Linked DNA regions of Homo sapiens: all the other regions are reported to be linked to region 2. The links are microRNA targets in miRTarBase. Many come from high-throughput screens and were not tested one by one. Region 2 holds a microRNA gene; each other region holds the end of a gene's coding sequence.

Evidence for each region. The annotated mature microRNA hsa-miR-6510-5p reads CAGCAGGGGAGAGAGAGGAGUC and lies in region 2 at 4,479-4,500, shown strand. An mRNA with a match to its seed (bases 2 to 7 or 8) in the 3' UTR can be bound and repressed. Matches are read on the target gene's strand: a 7mer-m8 pairs with bases 2 to 8, a 7mer-A1 pairs with bases 2 to 7 and ends in A, and an 8mer does both.
Region 1: the mRNA of BNC2 is a reported target of hsa-miR-6510-5p. The part of its 3' UTR that is shown has no 7-base or 8-base seed match.
Region 3: miRTarBase lists ZC3H10 as a target of hsa-miR-6510-5p. Seed matches in the 3' UTR shown: 7mer-A1 at 4,845-4,851, 7mer-A1 at 3,648-3,654 and 7mer-A1 at 3,153-3,159.

The regions. Positions count from the first base shown.
Region 1 is chr9:16,412,634-16,419,964 of GRCh38, reverse strand. It overlaps BNC2 (basonuclin zinc finger protein 2), which reads left to right. Exons shown (of 7, transcript NM_017637.6): 7 at 316-7,331. The coding sequence ends at 976. LOC124902125 (a long non-coding RNA gene) reads right to left here. Exons shown (of 3, transcript XR_007061425.1): 3 at 4,589-4,676. Among named protein-coding and RNA genes, the nearest start is that of LINC03041, 140 kb to the right of the region's middle.
Region 2 is chr17:41,514,363-41,521,693 of GRCh38, reverse strand. It overlaps MIR6510 (microRNA 6510), which reads left to right and starts at 4,477; the gene lies at 4,477-4,530. It overlaps KRT15 (keratin 15), which reads left to right and starts at 2,804. Exons shown (of 8, transcript NM_002275.4): 1 at 2,804-3,364; 2 at 4,529-4,611; 3 at 4,730-4,886; 4 at 5,429-5,590; 5 at 5,684-5,809; 6 at 6,002-6,222; 7 at 7,020-7,045. The coding sequence starts at 2,867. RefSeq lists enhancers at 1-351, 1,465-2,464, 4,169-5,053.
Region 3 is chr12:56,120,769-56,128,099 of GRCh38, reverse strand. ZC3H10 (zinc finger CCCH-type containing 10) reads right to left here. Exons shown (of 3, transcript NM_032786.3): 3 at 586-7,331. The coding sequence ends at 6,233. Among named protein-coding and RNA genes, the nearest start is that of ESYT1, 3.8 kb to the left of the region's middle. RefSeq lists enhancers at 1-161, 1,601-1,860, 5,948-6,945.

The sequences.
Region 1 (7,331 bases), not on the chromosome of region 2:
CTACATAGTAAAACTAACAGAGTAATCATTGAGAAAAAGGTGCACGGGTTTGCATTCATCCTACCATTGACAGAGTCAACTCTCTTATAAAAATAATGTTAATGGAAAGTTCCCCTGATTGCACCTCTCACCACCACCACTAACTCCCAGATCCTGAGGATATAGGGGAATGCTTGCTTTTATAATGGTGTAATTAGAAGTGAATGTGCTTATTTGATACCTAGTGAAAGCTGAATCAATTTTAAAATGCTTTCCTTTTTCTCACCTTTCCCCACCCCCCATCCACGTACCCCCCCTTCCCTCTTGTTTTCCTAGACACAGTGCCAACATAAACCTACATCGTAAACTGTTGACCAAAGAACTCGATGACATGGGCCTGGACTCGTCGCAGCCCTCCCTTAGCAAGGACCTCCGCGATGAATTTTTGGTGAAGATATATGGTGCCCAGCACCCCATGGGGCTCGATGTCAGGGAAGACGCCTCCTCTCCCGCAGGGACTGAAGACTCCCACCTGAACGGGTATGGGAGAGGCATGGCAGAGGACTACATGGTCCTTGACTTGAGCACCACCTCCAGCCTCCAGTCCAGCAGCAGTATCCATTCCTCCAGAGAATCCGACGCAGGCAGCGATGAGGGGATTCTTCTCGATGACATTGACGGGGCGAGTGACAGTGGGGAGTCGGCACACAAGGCCGAGGCCCCTGCCCTCCCTGGCAGCCTAGGGGCTGAAGTTTCAGGATCTCTTATGTTCAGCAGCTTGTCTGGGAGCAATGGTGGGATCATGTGCAACATTTGCCACAAAATGTACAGCAACAAGGGGACCCTGAGAGTGCACTACAAAACTGTGCATTTGAGAGAAATGCACAAGTGCAAAGTCCCAGGTTGCAATATGATGTTTTCCTCTGTACGAAGCCGAAATCGGCACAGTCAGAACCCTAATCTCCACAAAAACATTCCCTTCACTTCAGTAGATTAGTCTCAGAATGGACACTACAAATGCCAGCTCTCACCAGATGGCCTACGTGTTTGAACTGCCATAGTCAGTGTGCGCTTATGTACTTGGGGTGTGTGTGTGTGTGTGTGTGTGTGTGCATTTATGTATGCTCTGTGGCTACATATACACACACGTATTTCCTTGAGATAAACAAGATAAACACTAGGTGCTTTTGAATTTTTTTCACTTCCCTTTATAGTTTTGGGAAAGGAGTGGGATCTTTGATTTCAGGGTGAAAACAGAGTACCCCTTTAAACACACACACACACACATGCACATACACACACACACACACACACACACACAGTGTGCAACTAGCCCCAGTTTTGACAGAATAATTCTTGGTCTTCCCCAAAGAGACAATTTGTTGTACCCATGACTGTTGCCTGCAAAAATAAAAGGGAAAAAAAAGAAAAAAGAAACAAAAAGGAACTTCTTATAGTTGTCTTTTGTGAACTTTAAGGTTTTGAAAGAATCTTCAATTAAAGCATGGCAGATTCACCTGTAAATATTTAGCCTTGAGGGGCCATTGATGTAAAACAATTGTATTGATGGTTGTTTAACTTTTTTGTTTAATTTTTACAGTTACATCCAGCTGTTAGATATGCAGGAAAAGATAGTTTGCTGGCTAGCTCTATTCATTTATGTTAGCATTAATGCACATTTTTAAAAAAAGAAAAAAACATGGTCTTGTTTTTACTACCTGTTAGATATAGTGCTAAAGAGGTGCTGGCATGCTTTACAGCACAGATCTGATTTTTTAAAATGTCCTGTACTAGTACATAAATCCCGTCATGCACTTTTTTTCATACACTACAAGGGGATGTGTAATAACCATGCTTCTTTTTTATCCTTAAACTATTGCCATACTTCAGTAAGTGTCTTTTTTAAAAAAAATTCACTTGTATAAAAATGGTCTGGTCAGTATAGGGCACAAATGCCAAACAAAGTATTAGTGTTAACACAAAACTGCCAACTTTGCACAAGTTTCCAGAAAAGAAAATACAATTAGTCACTCAACATAACCACAGGCCAATTTGTTGGCCACCAGAAAACCGCTTTTTAAAAAAACACTTGGTGATTCTTTCAAGTGCCGAATGTTATTAGAATCAACATTGCATCCTTCTTGCTTATACGTTAAGTTACATAAAAGGAAAACAAAATTATGTGGTGTGAAACAGCCAAGGCATTTATTCTTCAGAGGCAGGATAATATTTCAGGATACAAAAGCCCAAATTACCCGCTACGGAACAAAGATGAATACAGTAAAAGAGTCGAACACTCATTTCCAAGGCCCTAACCCTTATCCTTTAAAAAGAAATCCTCTGAACTGGGTCGGTCTGTTGTATGGCTGTCTAATTTGTTGCAAATTCTGCAGTCGTACTATAATTCAGGCCTGTTTGGTAGACAAAATCAAAAGGCATTTAACAGCAGCAGTACTTGGAAGCTTTGAAAACATGTGCTAAACTTGAATGGAGCAACACTCCTTTCTGAAAAGCCAGAAGAAGGGGGTTTTAAAGCAGGATCTCTCAATGTTCAGTGTTTTGTGTTTCCCCACACGATTTGTCAGAGAGAAATGAAAGCAAGCCTGAAACCAAGCAATTGAGAGTGAGAAAGAGGAGAGAGACTATTCTCCAAACCTTTTTTGTTTTGTTTTGTTTCCGATGTTTACACATGTTGCCTGAGCTGGTTAACCACATCGGCAGCCTCAGCTACCACAACATACTGACTAAATGATGATATTTACTCAAGTTCAGTCTGCAGCCAAAACCATTAGGGTGTGCATTGCAGACTGTTTTGTTGTCTTTTTTTTTTCTTTTTTCCTTTTTTTTTAAGTGGAGGGGAAAAGAAGAGATAAACAAGGAATATTTTGTCAAACAGTACACAATAATTTAAAGAGAATGTATTTCTTTTTTGCATTTAATGGCCTCAGACATTTCTTTCATCAGTCTAAAAGTTAGAAATATCCCTTTATTTTAACTTTTATGTCGTTTCCATTTTTCATGTTTTTGTAATTATTTTTTCTATGTTCACATCAGCATTCACTTCCGTTAAATTTGCCAAAGGAAACTGTTAATATGTTTCTGTTGTTATTATTCCTGTAGGATTTATTGTACCTCACAGTATTTATTGTTTCCCAAAATAAGCATCATTAGTTGGGGATTCAGTATTTTTGTTGTGAAAATTTCAGAAACAATAGATTCTTAAAGATAAGCTAGCTATGTCTAGGAGCTTTATCTTTTCACCTCCTTCAGAGGATGCTATGGGGTCCATTTTAATTCTTCATTTGTTCTACGGGGAGGAAAGACCAAAAGTATTTGCAGTACAAAAGAAACTATATCAAACACTATGTTAAATGACAAGTGTTTATGGTAAAAAGCTGAGGAATTAGTAATAATCGTTTTTGTTTTCTTGTACTTTGAATTCCCCAAAGTCTTAATTGCTTTATTTTGGTGTTGTGTTAAATTGAACAGACAGATGTTTTCCTTTGTTTTATACCATATAAGACTCTGTACAGTATGTTTGTGAAAGATTGAACTAGAATAATGAAAGTTTGTTTGCAAACATTTTGGTCCTCTCAGCGTTCTCTGTGTTGTGCTGTTGCCCCATTACCAAATGGTTAGATTCAAAAAGGGTGGGAAAAGATTTTTAATATCCCAACAAAACATTATAGAAACTCTGGCTTTTGCAGTGTGCATAGACTACATGTAGTTTTATGAAAATAAATACACATTTTTATTTCAGCAACTTTGAAAAGTTACACTCAGTTGAGTTACTAGAACTCATCTTGTACAACAGCAATGTTTAGTCTGTTTAATTTAATGTCAAATAAAAGGTCAGATAGCCCTCGTGAGTGAATTACATAGCTGTCGGCAGTCACATCAGCAAATGCACCAGGCTTAGAACAAATGTTTGTTACTTGCTGCAAACCAAGCTAATGTGTATAGCCAGTTAGAAAAAGTCCAGAAGTAATGAGATTCTAGAAGTAGAGTTTCCCTTGCTTGGAAACATGAATGTGTTCACCTGTGTTTTGTCAGAGAAGTGGCAATAAGTCCTGGACAGCTGACACTTTTTAAGTATCTCCCCTATTTGCTACTACTTTTGTGCCTCAAGTGCCCAGTCGTTACGGTGGCCTTCTAAATGAGTAAATAACATTTTCCAATATAAAGCCTATTTGCTTAAAAGGGACAGGGGAGTGGATGGATGTAGTACATGCAATGGAAAATCATAAAATGTACAATTCTTCTGTTTCCAAAGTATTGCTCGTTCTTGAGTGTGTGCCTGAGTGTCTTGTTTTGACTTAACTAGAATTCTAGTTAAGATGGTGATCCCATGGCTTATTTGCAAACAGGAAGGATAAAGAGATCAGCGTTTTAGTCATGGAGCTCATCTTTGCCCATTCCTACTCATTTGCTTTTTCATAGGAGTTTTTTGTTGTTAAACAGTTTCTCTCAAGCCACATGCATTCTATGCTGGCTGAAAATTAATAGTGATGTAGATGTTCATCCGACAAGCTTTTCCCCATGTGATTGGTTTTAGCCAGAGTTTATCACAGGTACAAAATTAGGCGGTATGACTGTGCATGTTCTCTAGCTGATGTTGAAACTTGTACTGTCTTGATCATTTAAAACTATGTTTTTGTAAATATCAGGTTTAGTCCGCTTTCGGGAATATCTGCATGCTATGGAAAGAGAGAAAAAAAGGATAGATAATGAGGAATTTGGTTTAAAAGTGTGATAAAAATCCTTGGCATTCTTTGTTCTGATATTAATTGTATTTAAATAAGTCAACCCAATGTAACTCATTCCAGATCTTAGTCCAGCTGCCCTGTTCAGCCTGATGCCTTTTAAAGGTTTAAAGGTGTTAATGTTTTCCTTTTCAACATGGCAAACATTTTTTAAAACCTTTTTGGCACAATGGTGCCACTGTCCTCATAGTGTTATTTCTTTGGTCATGAATTTTCAGGCCCTTCCAGTAAGAGGAGAAAGGCACTTAACTGGTTAACAGCCCCATTATTATACATTGCTCTAAGGAAAAAAAAAAAAAAAAAACTTTGAATATATCAAGAATGGGCTATTCCAGAGGCTTCTCCTCAGGAGAAACTATGCACTAGGTTCCCACCAAATACAATGTGACCTTTTTTTCCCCTTTCTCTGTACACACCCCAGATATGTGCCAAGCAAATGAGAATGAGGGCCGTTGACAATTAAAGCATAAAGAAGCTAGTCACCAGATTGAGATGGACATGCTGCTAACTGCTGACAGCTTGACCTGAGCAGTCCTAACTTGTATCTGGTCTGTTAGCATTGGGTTAGATTGACTAACAGAGTAAATAAAATTCACCTGTCATAAGACACGCTACATCTGCTATCATCAAGAAACAAATCATCCAGAAGAAACTTTTTTTCATCCTGTGGTCACACCCTTTTCTTAAGAGCTTCTTTTTTAAAATTATGACAAACGAATTTCATTCTTTAAAATCACTTATCTTCTCCCAAACTTGAAGTATTTAAATTAGGTGGTTTTGCTTTTCCCTCTCATTGTTTATTTTTTGGGGATGGATCTAAATGAGTAAGATGAGCAATAAAAGATACCAGAAAGACTGGAGGGATCACAGTGTTTTCATCAGAACTAAGTAGAGGGTCGGTTCCTGCCCTGGTTTTGGGGTAGCTAGAAAAGGAAATCATGAATGCACTGGAAATGTTGGCTCGAGAGAAAAGACTGGCATAGCTCTGCCTCGCAGTGGGTGAGAGCGTATTGATCGTAGGGACCTGCAGAGTTCCTATGACCAGGTGAGTCGGCTCTGAGGAAGGGGTTAGGAAAGCAAGTACAGCTGCATGAAATAGCTGAAGTTCCTTTGGGGTCAGGAAGAGCCGACAATTGTGGGGTTTTGGTTGCTTTTGCTTTGTTTTTGAGTGGGAAGTGTTGCTGGAATCCCCTGAGAACCGAAAGATGCCAGGGGTCAGCAAGGCTATAGAAAAGGCCAGTGGTAACACCTCGTTTTCATCCTAACAGAGGAGTAGGTGCGAATGGCACCAGCATGGATCGTTCCTTTCTTGATCATTACTCATGCTTGCCACTGTAGCAACACAACAAAGCCATGATTGTAATTAATACTAGGCTAAAGACCTTGATCAAAATGGGAGCTCATTTACTGTTCTATGAGGTATGTAAGTAACTTCTCTTCACATTTTCCCTCAGAGATAAACCACACGTGGTAGTCTTGTTTGCGTTAGTACTAAGGTCATGTTTGATCTGTCCCAGACGAGTCGCATATTTCCTGTAGCTGGAGTGTTGCTCACCATAAATGGTCATTTTCAAAAAGTATTGTGTAATTCCAGCTGTACAACTGACCAGTGAGTTATCTGTCATCACTGTTGCCCACATACCCGTCCTTCCTTGTGTAGTTTCATCATCCTCATCCTTCCCACATCTTGCGCAAAATGATTTTCTGTGCTCATTCGGCAATAACTATGTTATTCGGCATACTGTCTTTTTGGCATTTGTTGAAAAATCCAAATGCTTTTAATCCAAAAGATTAATCCAAATCTTTTTTAATCCAAATGATTTTAATCCAAATCCAAATAACAGGAGGTTAAAAAAAAAAAAAAAACTAAGCATTTTTACATGTACACTGAATTGGATCAGCATTATTGTTCATTATAATGCTATATATATTTTTGGAGCAACATACTATAGTTGTCATAAAACTATCTTTATTCTTCTCCTCTAAAGTGCTGTTGTAAATTCATTTGACCTTTACTGCAGGAAAAAAAAAAATCTTTTTTATATAGGATATGAAGACCAAGGCTCAGTCTGTAACAAATAGTGGACCATTACAAAAGAGGAAAGAAAAAAGCCAGGGCTGAGCAGCAAGAAGCTTCAGTTCAATTTCACCTCGTATCTTTCTAATAACATACTTGTCACTTTATTACCTTCCAGTAATGTGAACGCTGCTGACAAGACTGTCACACTAACAGCAGACAACACCCTCTCTGCTTCAGCCCAGCTCTCCTGGCTACTTATTGCCCTGGCCCTGAAGGGACACAAACTAATAGTGTGCTTTCCAGTTCAGCACTTGGCCATCAAATATAAAAGGATGCGTAATTGCCTGTTTATCCCCTTGTGAAGGAGAAATTGACTACAAGGGCTAGGCTTTCCCATCGAGTTCCCTGATGTACACACACATCCACAATCAGTCAGTCTCTCTCTCTCTCTCTCTCTCTCTCTCTCTCTCTCTCTCTCTCTCCCCTCTCTCTCTCCTTCCCTCTTATTCTCCCCTCCTAACATACAAGCACATACACACACCTACTGTATCTGTGGGAAGCCCAAGGCT
Region 2 (7,331 bases):
GGTTTAAAGGTAAGTCTCTGGGCTCCAGGACACACCCCCTCTCCCTGGCATTTCCCTGGGGAACAGGAGAGGTGTGGGAGGGTTCTAAGGTTGTTGGAGACTTCATTCTCCTTGTGCCCTCAAATGCTCACTATGGCCCTGAGGGGAGTCTGTGTTAATGGCCTAAGTTTAAATCAGGAACCAGGCTCAGAGAGGCTGAGTCTCTTTCCACTGGGCTGCACTGCCTCATTCTAAGGAGAAAAGGCCAGCTCCACAGATGGCCCCATCTGGCTGCAGTGGGCAAAGGTCAGAAACTGGCACAGCATCCTGGGCAGGCTGCCTGGGGCAGGGCCCGGGGCTACAGCCTGGGCTGGGGCCAGACAGAGCTTTATCTTCGCAAGGCCATCCCACCTGGTGCTAATGAGGAGGCTCCGGGCCCCACCCAGATCTGGAGCTCACAGTAGCGGTTTGGACTGAAACCAGGGATTTGTGCGTGGGGCAGTGAGGGGGGCAGCTGCCGCCCCTGGCCTGGGCCTGAGAGTATAGAGAAAGCCACCTCGAGGGGCTGCTGGAGGAGAGTCAGGTGCAGAAGGGGATCTGGCTGGGGTCCAGCCCTTCCTCACCCTGGGGTGAAAGGCGAGTAATTGTTCTTGAGTTAATTGCTGGGGCCACAATGTCTGCAGAGGCTTTTAATGAGCTCTGGATGATCTGAGTTTGATTATTTTTCTTTCGGAGGAAAAGACAATACCCTCCCACCCATGAGACAATACCACACTGTCTGTGCCCAGCATTGGAGGCCAGGCTCACTGCGAAGATGGATGAGAAGGAACCCACCCCCAGCCTTGCTGGCTGGCAGTTCCCCTTGCCAGCCCAGCTCAGATGCAGGAATTTGGGGTCTGCAGGAAGGACTCTTTCCCTGTGCCCTGTTTGGTTGAGGGTGTGAGGACCTGTTTGAGTCCTGGCTTTGCCCCTTACCAGTGGTGCCACCTGGCACAAGTTGCTTCACCTCTCCAAGTTTCAATTTCATTCTTTCTGAATCTTGGGTGGGGGTCACCCTCTGTTGTGAGGATGAGAGGAGGTGATGGATGCAAAAGTGCTTTGTAAATCACAAAGTGCAGGGTAGAAGTAAAGGATTATGCTATTATAGCAAAATAAGAACCTAAGAACAACCTGCGTTGCCCCATAGGAGCTGGCTATGGAAGGTCGATGCCGTTGAGCCTAAGAACATGCTCAGGCTCACAGGGCATGTTCTGATGCCCAACGACAAAGCCCCTCCTGGTGAGGGCACTCAGGCGCAGGTGCCGGTCATGCACCCTGGCCCCTGCATGTCTGGCACCTGGGTGGGGATCCAGGAGGGGGCAGGATGGGGGCTCTTGGGCCACAGGGCTTCCCTGGAAGTGAGAGTTGAGAGCGCCCCTTGCCACAGGGAAACAGAGACTTAAAAAGGTAAATGTCCACAGTCTTACCATGGTAATTGGTAGGGTCAGGATTTGAACCCAGGCCTCACAGTCTTACCATGATAATTGATAAAGCCAGGATTCAAACCCGGGCCTGAGGGACTCCAGAGCCCTGTCCACTTCACCATGCTGCAACCTGGGCTAGGAATCCTCCTCCTGAGTTTCTGTAAGCCCTGGGGCCAGGTCCAGAGGGCTGAGCCACACCTCCAAGTGGCACTGCCCACAGGTATCAGGTGTCCCTGGAAAGGTGTCCCTGAGCTGGTGGCAGAGAAAAGGGCTCTCCTGAGTGTTCAACTCCCCGTCTGTGTGAAGCAATGCCTTGGTCTTCAAGATCTCCGGTGTCTTCCAGCCTGCCTGCCAGTCTCCCTTCTCTTCCCTTCCACAGCATTCAGGCACATAGAGCCTTCTGCAGCGGCCCGTCCCCAGCCAGCACTTGACAGGACAGATGGGGGCTAATCTGGCCCTGCTAAGCAGCGACATGCCTCTCCTGGAGAAGGCAGGGGCTTCCTGGAACTTGCCCCAGCCTTATCAGCGGAGGTTTGCCCCAACACATCCCAGAAACGAGCAAAGGTTCAGCGCCGTGCAGTTGGCAGGTGTCGGGATCATCAGTCATCCCCTTGTCAGTCCCAAGCCTGCTGGGCTTTTGTGAGGGTGCCAGGAACACAGGCTGGAGGATGGCAGGAGGGGAGTAGAGGTGGGAGGAGGGGAGTCCATCTGCAGCACCAGGTAAGGGGATGGATGCTGGCTCCTCTGGTCACCTCAGCTGGAACACTACTCAAGGTCCCTGGCTCCTGTCCTCCACCTGCCCCCAGGGGCCCTGCATTCCCATCCCCAGGGCCTCCACTCTCCCTGAGCCCTGCAGTCTCTCACTCACTCACTCACTCACTCATTCACTCACTCACTCACTCACAGGGTTTTGAGTTGGATAACACAGCATAATGATCGGCCAGTGGACTCCCAAACTAAGAACACGGAGCTGTCCTCTTGGGGAGAGGCTCAGGGCTCGGGGAAGTGAAGTCCAGCTGAGGGCACAGTTGGCCTGAGCTGCTCTCAGTACAGGCAGAGGCCTTGGTAGCTGTGCTGTGATGAGAGTTCGCTCCCTGCTGCTCTCTTCTGGCATGGAGAGATGAACCTGTAATCCAAGTGTTAAAACCGTGCCCTGGGGAAAAACACTATTAATTCTGAATCATCTCTTTTGTTGCATTAAAAAAAAATAGAAGAGAAAAACTTCACATGACCCACTCAAGGTGTGCAGGCAGCTGTGTTTGTCAGGAAGGCAGAAGGAGTTGGCTTTGCTTTAGGGGAGGAGACGAGGTCCCACAACACCCTCTGAAGGGTATATAAGGAGCCCCAGCGTGCAGCCTGGCCTGGTACCTCCTGCCAGCATCTCTTGGGTTTGCTGAGAACTCACGGGCTCCAGCTACCTGGCCATGACCACCACATTTCTGCAAACTTCTTCCTCCACCTTTGGGGGTGGCTCAACCCGAGGGGGTTCCCTCCTGGCTGGGGGAGGTGGCTTTGGTGGGGGGAGTCTCTCTGGGGGAGGTGGAAGCCGAAGTATCTCAGCTTCTTCTGCTAGGTTTGTCTCTTCAGGGTCAGGAGGAGGATATGGGGGTGGCATGAGGGTCTGTGGCTTTGGTGGAGGGGCTGGTAGTGTTTTCGGTGGAGGCTTTGGAGGGGGCGTTGGTGGGGGTTTTGGTGGTGGCTTTGGTGGTGGCGATGGTGGTCTCCTCTCTGGCAATGAGAAAATTACCATGCAGAACCTCAATGACCGCCTGGCCTCCTACCTGGACAAGGTACGTGCCCTGGAGGAGGCCAATGCTGACCTGGAGGTGAAGATCCATGACTGGTACCAGAAGCAGACCCCAACCAGCCCAGAATGCGACTACAGCCAATACTTCAAGACCATTGAAGAGCTCCGGGACAAGGTGAGTCCTCGGATGTCAAAGAGAGGGGAGCAGGTGGCTGGTACCCTGTACACAGCTCTAATGTCAGTGTTACTGCTGACTCAAGGAAATCCTTTCCTGCCCAGGCAATGACTGTCTGGTATGTAATCTCAGCAAATTTGGAATGCACCTGCTGTCCAGGTGCAGAGGCCAGTGCACATCTTCTCAACTTGGTGGTGCTGGGGGAGGGAGAGAGGGGTCTTGGGAATCTGGTTAGGACCAACAGGGGCACAGGTGGGGGCAATTATAAAGAGCCAGAGGCAGTAGCTCACACCTGTAATCCCAGTGCTTTGGGGGGCCAAGGTGATAGGATTGCTCGTGTCCAGGATTTAGAGGCTGCAGTGAGCTATGACTGTGCCACTGCACTCCGGCCTAGGTGACAGAGTGGAACCTGTATCTAATTAAATAAAAATAATTAAAAAAAAAGAGCAACTCGCCCTCCCTACCTCATGCACCCTGCAGGCTTCTGCATAAAGTATTCCTTTACCTCTTTTGCAAGAATGGGATTGGAGTGTGGCCTCATGAGTTCCAGATGCTAGAACCTCTTGTCTTTTCCTATAAAGAGGTCTTTTGTGCCAAAAGTACTGTTGGGTCTTAGGAGACCTGGGAACTCATTACACATTCTGCCACCCACTCACTCACCATTTTACTCCCTAAGACTGGGTTCCTCATTCGTAAAATGCCTTCTTAACTGCCCTCCAGGTTGCTACTGGCTGGAATGTTCTGTAGATCCATGGCTGTGTCCAAGGTGTGCAGGAGGCAGTGACCATGAGTTGTCCACAGTGGGGCTGGTGGAGTGTCTCTGAGAGAGCTATTGTCAGAGCTGGCTGCACCCCACTGCCCCACTCTCCTGGGCAACCAATTCCCACAGGCAATACTGCCTCCTTGGTCTTTCGTGCCCTGGAGATAAGGAAGGCAGCTCCTCAGGTGTCTCAAGGAGGCTGGATGGGACAAAACAAGAAATGGACACTGAAAGTGAGGCTGGACTTTGCCCACCCCAGAAGCCGTACAGATTTTTGTTGGTGGTGTCAGAGGGGTGATTGTCAGTGAGGGGTGATTTTCAATGAGGGGCTGGCCTTGGGTGCAGAGCAGAGAGCAGCAGGGGAGAGAGAGGAGTCCTCTAGACACCGACTCTGTCTCCTGCAGATCATGGCCACCACCATCGACAACTCCCGGGTCATCCTGGAGATCGACAATGCCAGGCTGGCTGCGGACGACTTCAGGCTCAAGTGCGCTCCCCCGTCTCTCTCCTCTTCCTGCATTGCCCACTTTACTTGGCCTTCTCCTGGCTCTGACTCAGGCAGCCAAGACCCCTCCCACTTCCTTCTTTGGCCTCCCTCTCCTCAGGTATGAGAATGAGCTGGCCCTGCGCCAGGGCGTTGAGGCTGACATCAACGGCTTGCGCCGAGTCCTGGATGAGCTGACCCTGGCCAGGACTGACCTGGAGATGCAGATCGAGGGCCTGAATGAGGAGCTAGCCTACCTGAAGAAGAACCACGAAGAGGTGAGAGCTGGCCCCCATCACCCCTGAACCCGAGAGAGGTGGGGAACCTCTTCCCAAAACTCACTTAAATTGCCCAGAGGGAAAGACAGTGGCTCCAGGAAGCCCTCCCAGATTTTCACGAGATTAAGTCAGTGGGAGGCAGAGTGGGGCTGTTGGTACTTCCTCATAGTTGGCCTGGGGCTTAGTGGTTCAGAAACACACCTACCCCACAAAACCAGGTGTCCTCATGGAGAGGAAGGGGCAGTGTCTGGTAGCCCAGGCCCACAGCCAGCCCAGGTGGCCCGTATGAATGGTTGACTTCCTGATTGGCTTTGTGAGCTCACATCAGGGCCCTACAGTCTCGGGGTCCTCCCTTGGTAGGACCTAGAGCAGCAGAGAACTCCTTAGAGCTGAGGGGTCCATGTGACCAAACCTCTTCATGTGCAATGGGGAACAGCGGTTGGGGTGTGTTACGGGCAGAGCCAGGATTGGCATGTGTGACGCCAGACTCTCAGGTCTCTCTTCTGCTCTCCGTCTCTAAGTGGGTCCCTCCCATCCTGCAGGAGATGAAGGAGTTCAGCAGCCAGCTGGCCGGCCAGGTCAATGTGGAGATGGACGCAGCACCGGGTGTGGACCTGACCCGTGTGCTGGCAGAGATGAGGGAGCAGTACGAGGCCATGGCGGAGAAGAACCGCCGGGATGTCGAGGCCTGGTTCTTCAGCAAGGTGGGCCTTATATCCTGCCCTGCCCTTCCTGCCCCAGGTCCCTGAGTCTCCGAGGAGGCCCCGGGGCTCACTTCTGTTGTGCATGACCTACAGACTGAGGAGCTGAACAAAGAGGTGGCCTCCAACACAGAAATGATCCAGACCAGCAAGACGGAGATCACAGACCTGAGACGCACGATGCAGGAGCTGGAGATCGAGCTGCAGTCCCAGCTCAGCATGGTACGGCCACTCGCGCCCCATCCCAGCCTCTCGGGTGGTAGAAGCTCCCACTCTTCCTGGCTATTTAAGCCTTGGAGTTCTCAAGCCCCCTCAAGAGGTGGTTCCCTGAACTCCATTCAGTGCCCCCTCCCTGCTTGCCCTCAGTGGCTTCCTTTCTAGCCTGATGTGTCTATGCATCTGTCACTCCCCCAGAAAGCTGGGCTGGAGAACTCACTGGCCGAGACAGAGTGCCGCTATGCCACGCAGCTGCAGCAGATCCAGGGGCTCATTGGTGGCCTGGAGGCCCAGCTGAGTGAGCTCCGATGCGAGATGGAGGCTCAGAACCAGGAGTACAAGATGCTGCTTGACATAAAGACACGGCTGGAGCAGGAGATCGCTACTTACCGCAGCCTGCTCGAGGGCCAGGATGCCAAGTAGGCGCCTGGGCACAGGGGAAGGAGTGATGAGGGCTGCTTGTGGCTAGGGTGCAGGGTCATCCTAAGGGAATGGCAGGGTGTCCCTAAGCAGCCTTGAGGGACTGTGAAAAGAGAACTGAGCAAGGAGGGAGGATCTGGACTCCTCACTCTGGTCCTTGGCTGTTACCTGGGACAGGTCACTTCCTCTCTCTGGATCCGTGTTTCTTCTGTAAATGATAGAGGCTGGGCTAGTGGTAGTTAAGATCTAGTGCTCATTCCATTCTCTGCATGAGATAGATGGGTATTCTTGTAGTTCAGAATCTTGACCAGCTCAGTGGCTCATGCCTGTAATCCCAGCACTTTGGGAGTCCAAGGCGGGTGGATCACTTGAGGTCAGGAGTTCGAGACCAGCATGGCCAATATGGTGAAACCCCGTCTCTACTAAAAATACAAAAATTAGCTGGGCGTGGTGGCGGGTGCCTGTAATCCCAGCTACTCGGGAGGCTGAGGCACAAGAATCACTTGAACCCGGGAGGCGGAGGTTTCAGTGGGCTGAGATCGTGCCACTGCACTCCAGCCTGGGCGACAGAGTGAGATTCCGTCTCAAAAAACAAAACAAAACAAAACAAAATCTGTCTACTTGGGGATAGCAGGCCTGGATGGGCTAGCAGGATGTCCCACCCCTAGAGGAGTCAGATGTGTGGGTGGTGGTGGTGTAGGGTCTGAAGAACACTGCATAGCTATCTACATGAGCTTCCCTTACGGACACTTGAGCTTGTGCCCTTTGCTTAAATCAGCTTCCCTCTTTCTTTCAGGATGGCTGGCATTGCCATCAGGGAAGGTAGGAAGGCTTTACTCTTCTGGTGTGGGGTGGGGAGGGGAGATGTTGAAGCCACCACCCCCTTCGGAATAGGGAGGAAGGAGAAAGAGCCCAAACATCCCATTAGGTGGGAACATTCCCATTCATTAGATGCCTCTTCCCCAGTGGGAACTTCTGTCAGCCCCAGGTGAGATTGCAGCTGGTGATTTATTGAGAAACTTCCAGGTTGAGTAGGCTTCATTCAGGGCATGTCTCTCCCCCAGGCCCCATCTTCATACACTTCCGCTAAGATGCCCACAATTCATCC
Region 3 (7,331 bases), not on the chromosome of region 2:
TTCGGATAGGTAGGGCCTCCCTGATTGGGCCCGAAGGCCAAGATGGGAGGTCTGAGATGGCGGGAAAAGGAAGAAAGGGGCTCAGGGGCGGCATTCGATTGGTAATAAAGAGGAGGAGGCGTGGCGCACCATTTCAGGAGAGGCGGGACCAAGAGCTCCCCCACGTGGGATTGGAGTGCCTGTGGTATGACGTCATGCAGAGCTGCACCGCCAATTTCTTGGTTTTGGAGAAAGCCCAAGTTGCGAAGTTGAGGGGTTGTGGAGCTTCAGGATTTCCCTCTACTCATTCGGTTTGGCAGGATTTGGTCTGGGATATATATATATGTTCTTTTGCCGACTTTCTCTAGTTTTCATACTCTAAGCACATTCCTTATCCTTCAACTTTTTCCTGCCTGCCCTTACAAAAGGAAAGGATACGATCGTATTTGGAATGAAAGTGTTTGAAAACTAACCCCGTCTATCCCGTCCCTAATCCCCTACCTTCTTTGTGTGGTGTAACGACTGACCCTGGAGAAAACTGGAGAGTCAGAGAATTACAGAGTTGAGATAATCCAGCCTTCAGGGAAAGGGGGAAAAAAAGCAGAGTGAATAGAAAGTGAGGCTTTATTTCTTTTTGGAAATTTCCAAGAGTTAGTAAGTCATCTCTATCTTAGAGGATGGATGTAAGACTAGTTGGCTCCAAAAGGGAGGGAGGCAGCGCAAATTATTACATTTTCCAATAATTTTCTGACCCTGAAGAACTTCTAGGACACTAAAATGAGGGATCAAGAGTAAGGGAAAGACAATTCCTTTTCACATTTGCCTGAGTTAGAAGGAAGGTTTGCCATACAGTCAGGTGCAGAACTAGTGCAGTCCCACAGTGTACGGTGTAGGTTTAGGAAGGAAAAAGTGCAGGGTACACCGATGACTATTGTTACTAGTTAACTGGCGTTAGAGGTGGAGTGTTGTCCTAGGATCTAGGAACTAGACTAATTGGAAGTTGATGAGGGAAGTGTTGGTCATAAGATGATTACCTTTTAATGCAGTATATATGGGGCATATTATGTAAATCTGTCAGATGCAGCAGAAGAACTGGGGTTGATCACTGGGAAGAAACTAGCCATTTCTTAGAGGAAGTGTCTTACAGGATGAGGCCTGCAGCTGATAAATTTTATCTGGTTCTGCAGGGCATAGATTTCATCAGCCTGTGTTTACCAAAGCTGCTTAAAACCTGTCCCTGCTCAGCCTCTATCACTTAAATTTTTTCACTTCCTTTTCTCTACTTCCCTAGGGCTAGCAGTATCTTGACTGCTTCATTCAGTTTGCAGAACTATTTAAGAAACAATATTCTGTCTCCTATATCCTCCATATTCCCAGAGGTAAGCAGGTAGAAAAGGGAAACAAGGAAATTGGAGGAATTATGAGTGACCTGCTCACCAACTGATAAAGCAGAACTACAGAAGGAACATGGATGAACCTTAGAGAGAAACCTCTCTATAAACTGAAATTTGCCAAGCACTGGAGTAGGCAAGGAGGTTCCTGAGAATGGGGGAATGGAGAGGGTGACCTATGGAGGTTCTTTTCCAAACTTCTCCCTTCCTCACCTCATCCAGATCATCAGAAATTATATAGGGGATAAAACTTCATCCTCAGGAAGTTCTTGTCCCAGCTGGGGCCCAGGAGCCACAGGATCAGCAGCTGCAATGCAGTTACCAACACAAGTAAACAGGGTGGGTCCCCGCCCACTGACAATTCTGCTGCCCAGGTGCCACCTGGTGGTGATAAGCAGTAAGTGGACAACAGGAAGGGATGCCCATTTGTTAGAGGAAGTGTCTTACAGGATGAGGCCTACAGGAGGAGAGAGAGTAAACTTCCTGGACTTGCAATCTGCATTTATATGTAAACCATAATCACCTCCAAGAGGCAGAGGGTGAGATACGGTACTCTGATCTCAGCTCACAAAGATGGGAAGGGCAACAAGATTTGAGGAAACTCCTTCTGTATTCTTTATTCCTCAAAAGTTACTGCCAAGCCAGTCGCGGTGGCTCATGCCTGTAATCCCAGCACTTTGGAAGGCCGAGGCAGTTGGATCACCTGAGGTCAGGAGTTCAAGACCAGCCTGGCCAACATGGCGAAACCCCGTCTCTACTAAAAATACAAAAATTAGCCGAGCATGGTGGCATGTACCTGTAATCCCAGTTACTCTACTTGGGAGGCTGAGGCAGGAGAATCACTTGAACCCGAGAGGCGGAGGCTGCAGTGGGCCGAGATCACGCCACTACACTCCAGCCTGGGCAACAGAGTGATACTCCGTCTCAAAAAAAAAAAAAAAAAATTACTGCCAAGTAGTGATCGCTTTGTTGGATGGCTATATCATTAGAACTTTCTTTTGTCGTCTGGAGTGAGACTGCCTGAATAGATTCCTGGCCCCATTCCTTACTTGCAGAACCCTGGGCAGGTTACTTTTTAAGCCTGCTTTCTCCTCTGTAAAATGGGTACAATAATATTACCCATTGTGTCAATGAGATGTTGCATGTAAAGTGCCTAGCACAGAGCCTTGGCTTATATTAAGCAGTCAACAAATGCTAGCCGGCTGGGTGCGGTGGCTCAACGCCTGTAATCCCAGCACTTTGGGAGGCCGAGGTGGGCGGATCACGAGGTCAGGATATGGAGACCGTCCTGGCTAACACGGTGAAACCCCGTCTCTACTAAAAATACAAAAAGAAAATTAGCTGGGCACCTATAGTCCCAGCTACTCTGGAGGCTGAGGCAGCAGAATGGCGTAAACCCTGGAGGCAGAGTTTGCAGTGAGCAGAGATCGTGCCACTGCACTGAAGCCTGGGCCACACAGCTAGACTCCGTCTCAAAAAAAAAAAAAAAAAAAAAGTTAGCCATTATTCTAGAAATCCCTTTTTACTTCCTGTGTAGCAAACAGGATCTTCCTCCACTGGGCAGCCCTTCAAATATTTGAAGACTTCTATTTGAAGCTTTCTCTTGCCAGCCTTTTTTTTCTAGCAACACACTGGTTTGTCAATGGCCCTCTTTAAAAATTACATTTAGAACAACACACTACTAAGTGGTTACACTTAGGCAGAACATAGAACTGCTGTATTTGTAATCTATTACCAAGGTTCTACTACCCTTATGGAGCTCCTAGAAAGATGCCTAGAACATAGCAGGCTCTTAATAAATATTTATAAATGGACATCTTGAGGGCTAAGATTCTATTTTTTTGCAGCCAACTGGAAGTCCCAGTTTGTTCTCATGTGAATTATTGCTAATATAAATCTCTAACATTGTTCCTCAAACTAGTTCAAGATCTAAGCAATTTTTTAGTGTGAGAGTGCTCCAGTGTTTTAGTCAATTCAAGTTACAGACACTTTGAATATTATTTAGCTCTTCCTGTGTTACTGTTGATAAATGGGTTTTTTACATGTTTACCCGAGTTGGGTTTTTTCTTTTTACAATAAAACATAGCCCTTGGGCTTATCACTAGAGAACAGAGATTTCTCTAACATAAATGCGCTAACCAACACTAAGTACAAGTGTTCAGTTTGATTCTACCAAATGCTACTATTTTTTTCTCATTATTTTTTAACCAGAGCCATTTGCATGGAAAAAATGCTACGATTAACTGACCCGTAATTTTCCTCTTATCTGTGATGACTTAGCAGGTGAGAGAGAGGAAAGTAGCTCCTGTAATCTGGGAACTGGCCTGACACAGCCAGGCTTCAGAGCTGTTAGGGCTGACCTGGTGCTCACAGGTAGCCAATGAGTTCTCTTGGACACAAACAATCTCACAAAACACCAGCATCAGACAAGGTCACTCAGTGACTGCGATGAAGTGAGACAAAAAACAAAATCACTACACAATTTTGTTTAAGCACAAAACAAGGTCAGTGTGCAAACCACAAAACAGCAAACATCCCCTTTCCCAGCTAGTGAGTGACTTCATCATCGACTGTGCTTAGGTTCACTTGTCTGCCCTTCTTCTAGACAAGCTACCCAATTATCCTGGATTCCCTTAACAGCACCCAATCCAAAAGAACACCCACTTTCTTGAATCTTCCCCAAAATCACTTAACCAAAGTCTAAGTTCTCTAAGTCGTTCCTAACACCCTCATGCTGAGACACACCACGTTATCCCCAATGGTGAGCCCTCCCCCTCACTGCAATGAGCATTAAACCCAACTTGCTCAATTACCAGGTGTATTCTTGGTGGTCTTCAGCTGGAGTAAATACATACAAGACATACAATGTCTAAAATTTCCCAAATCTACCTCTTTGGAGATAACCTGGCAAGGAGGAAATAAAGTCAGTCAGGATTTGACTGAGAATTCATGTTGGTATCTATGGTTACATTCTTCTCTAAATGCTCTTAAACCATCTCTTTTAATAGTCTAGAATTGCCGGGCACGGTGGTTCATGCCTGTAATCCCAGCACTTTGGGAGGCTGAGGCGGGCGGATCACGAGAGATAGAGACCATTCTGGCCAACACGATGAAACCCCGTCTCTACTAAAAATAAAAAAATTAGCCGGGCGTGGTGGCGGGCGCCTGTAGTCTCAGCTACTCGGGAGGCTGACGCAAGAGAATCGCTTGAACCCAGGAGGCGCAGGTTACAGTGAACCGAGATTGCGCCACTGCACTCCGGTCTGGTGACTGGGCAAGACTCCATCTCAAAAAAAAAAAAAAAAATTGTGTCCCAAAAAACATTAAGCTTATCAATGTGTTGTTTCTAAAATCCACAATGTTAGCCCACTTTTAGTCTTTAGGCTTTTTTTTTTAATGACTGGCCTTGACCTAGCCCACCATCTCCAATCCCAGATGTGACCTGAGTGATCAACCAGACAAGAAAGCAAGAGGTAGCAGGAGACATGATGAGGGGGAACACAATCCAGGATCACTCTCTACCCCCAAATCTACTGTCCCATTAGACTAGACACCTGAGTTGTTTTCCCTACATCAGCCGTGAGCTGAGGAGGAACTGAGGTTTGACTATTGGGGCCCCTGGCCTTACTGACTTAAGTAGATTTAAAACTTCTGGTCCTATGTGGAGACAGAGGAAAGGGATGGACCCTGAGGCTTGTGTCCCTAGAAGGACTCTCTTTTCCCAGACCTCCCAAGCCTTGAAGGCTTCAGGAACTGGCCACTGAAGGGGTGGGGTAGGAGGGACATTAACTGCCATCAACTGAGCGGCAACTGCCATCAACTCAATGGCCATCAACTCCACCTGTCCTGCTCTGTTTGAATAAGGATCTGTCAACTATGTAACATCCCATCCGCATTTCAGCAAATACACTCTCCTTACTGCCTGCCCTGCTAAATGACCCTAGGAGCCCTGGTTACTGAGGCAACCTGGGAATAGCACATACAGACAGAGACCAGAAACAGATGGGACTATTTTTAAAACTAGACTGGGTGGCTCCAAAGCTTTTACCCCATAAAGTGCCTTCCCCAAAGCCCCATTTGGTCTTGTTCTGGGTCCCTACCCTTCTTCACTGGCTTCTATCCATCTTACCAAAGCTATGTGAGGCTGGGGTCTTTATCCCATTTTGGCATGAGATCTATTTACTGCTCCCATCTTCCACACAGAATAGCTAAGCAAGTTTTCACTGCCTCCATTTGTTAAAAATAATTGTTCTTTTATTTCTTTGGAAAGTAGTGGGCCCTGCCCTATGGATTTTCAGGTCAAACTAGGGTAATGAATGCTCCCCTAGTCTTTGGGCTGGAGCACTATGGTCCCAGCTTTCCCAGGGCCCAGAAGCAATTCCTGTATTGTCCAACCCAAGCAACTAGGACCCAAATTGTCTGAAGGCTCCTATCAGGCCTTCTCTCCTGACCACCCACTTCCCAATCTTTCCTGGCTTTCCCTCTGGGCAGGGTATTTTTTTCTTCTAAAACCAGTGCTGGAACCTGTGCTGTGCAGAAGAGAGGACAAGACGAGGGATGTTCCCAAATTCCCATAAGAGGACACAGCCCCTCAGTCAGTCCTTCCTCTCTGCTGGCTTCAGTCTGCACTCCTCTGCAAGCCCCCACTGTGAGGCTTGAAGATGGACAAGAGGACCCTCATAAAAGGGAGGTGAGAGAAAACACACCATCCCAACCCCTCCTCAGGACATACTCCTTGTAGTCTCTTGTCCTAGTTCTCAAGGGAGCCCTTCAGACAGGGATGGGGAAGGCTAGGTGAGTGGGCAAGGGCCCCCTGACCCCAGCCCTGCGAGGCTATACCAGGGGAGTGTCCATTAGCCCCATCAGTGTGGCATGGCCGTGATGCGCATGCTCTGGGAAGCGATAGGGTAAGTCACCATGGGAGTGGTGGTGTGGCTCATTGTGATTCCTGCCAAGGGTTGGGCCATCGATACAGCCACAGGGGCCACAGGAGCCACAGATACAGCCACAGGAGCCATGGAGACAGGTGGAGGTGCCATTCCCTGGGCAATTGTTTGAGCCAGGGCAGCTGACAGTGGCGTGATCTCTGGGGTCAAGTGTGGGGGTGGGGGTGGTGGAGCAGCAGGAGGTGCAGCATTAGTTGGGGGAGCAGCTGGAGCTCCAGCAGGGGCCACCAGTTCTTGCTGGGACACTGGACGAGGCTGTAGAGCCTGGCTGCTGAGAGTAGTGTGAGTCTGGGCAATGCCATGGTTAAAAGTGGCAACAGTGCCCACAGTGGGGGCCAGAGTCTGCTCAGTCGCTGGTGCAGTGGAGCTCAGGGTTATGACCTTGGCCTGATTGCGGAACTGAGCATTTTGTTCCAGTAGTACCTCATTGGTGGCCAGCAGGTTGCTGACCTGCTTCTTTAACTCCTCTACCCGCTTCCTGAGCATGGCATTCTCCTCCTCTAGCAGTCTGCACTCCACCCCTCGCGGTGGAGCCAAACTATATTCATATGACTCAAAATGAGGGCCATCAGGGGGGCAGCATCCACCTCGCCGGCGTTTTGGGCCTGGCTCATGGTCCTCAAAGCCCCTGTCAGGAAGGTCATAGATATCATAGAGATCATGACGTCGTCCTGGGAGGACTGAGCCTGTTGAGCCCCCACCAGTGCCTCCTCCACCCCGAGCATCAAACTCAAAATCCCGTTGCAGGTGACGGAACTTGCACTTGGCTCCTCTCTGACAGTCACCCTTGAGAAAGTCACGGCAGATAGGGACCTCCTCCTTGCCATTTGGTAGGTCAGCCGGTGAAAGGCCAAGGCCAGCTGCTACTTTCTGCCTCAGCCGTGGGGGAAGCTCTCCTGTCTTCTTATAGCCATCCTCATCCTCCTTGGAGCCATGGATGAAACGGCAATTTGGGCGGCTACACTCCTTGTTCTGGAAGTCATGGCAGAAGATGAACTCGTTTTTGCTCACCCCC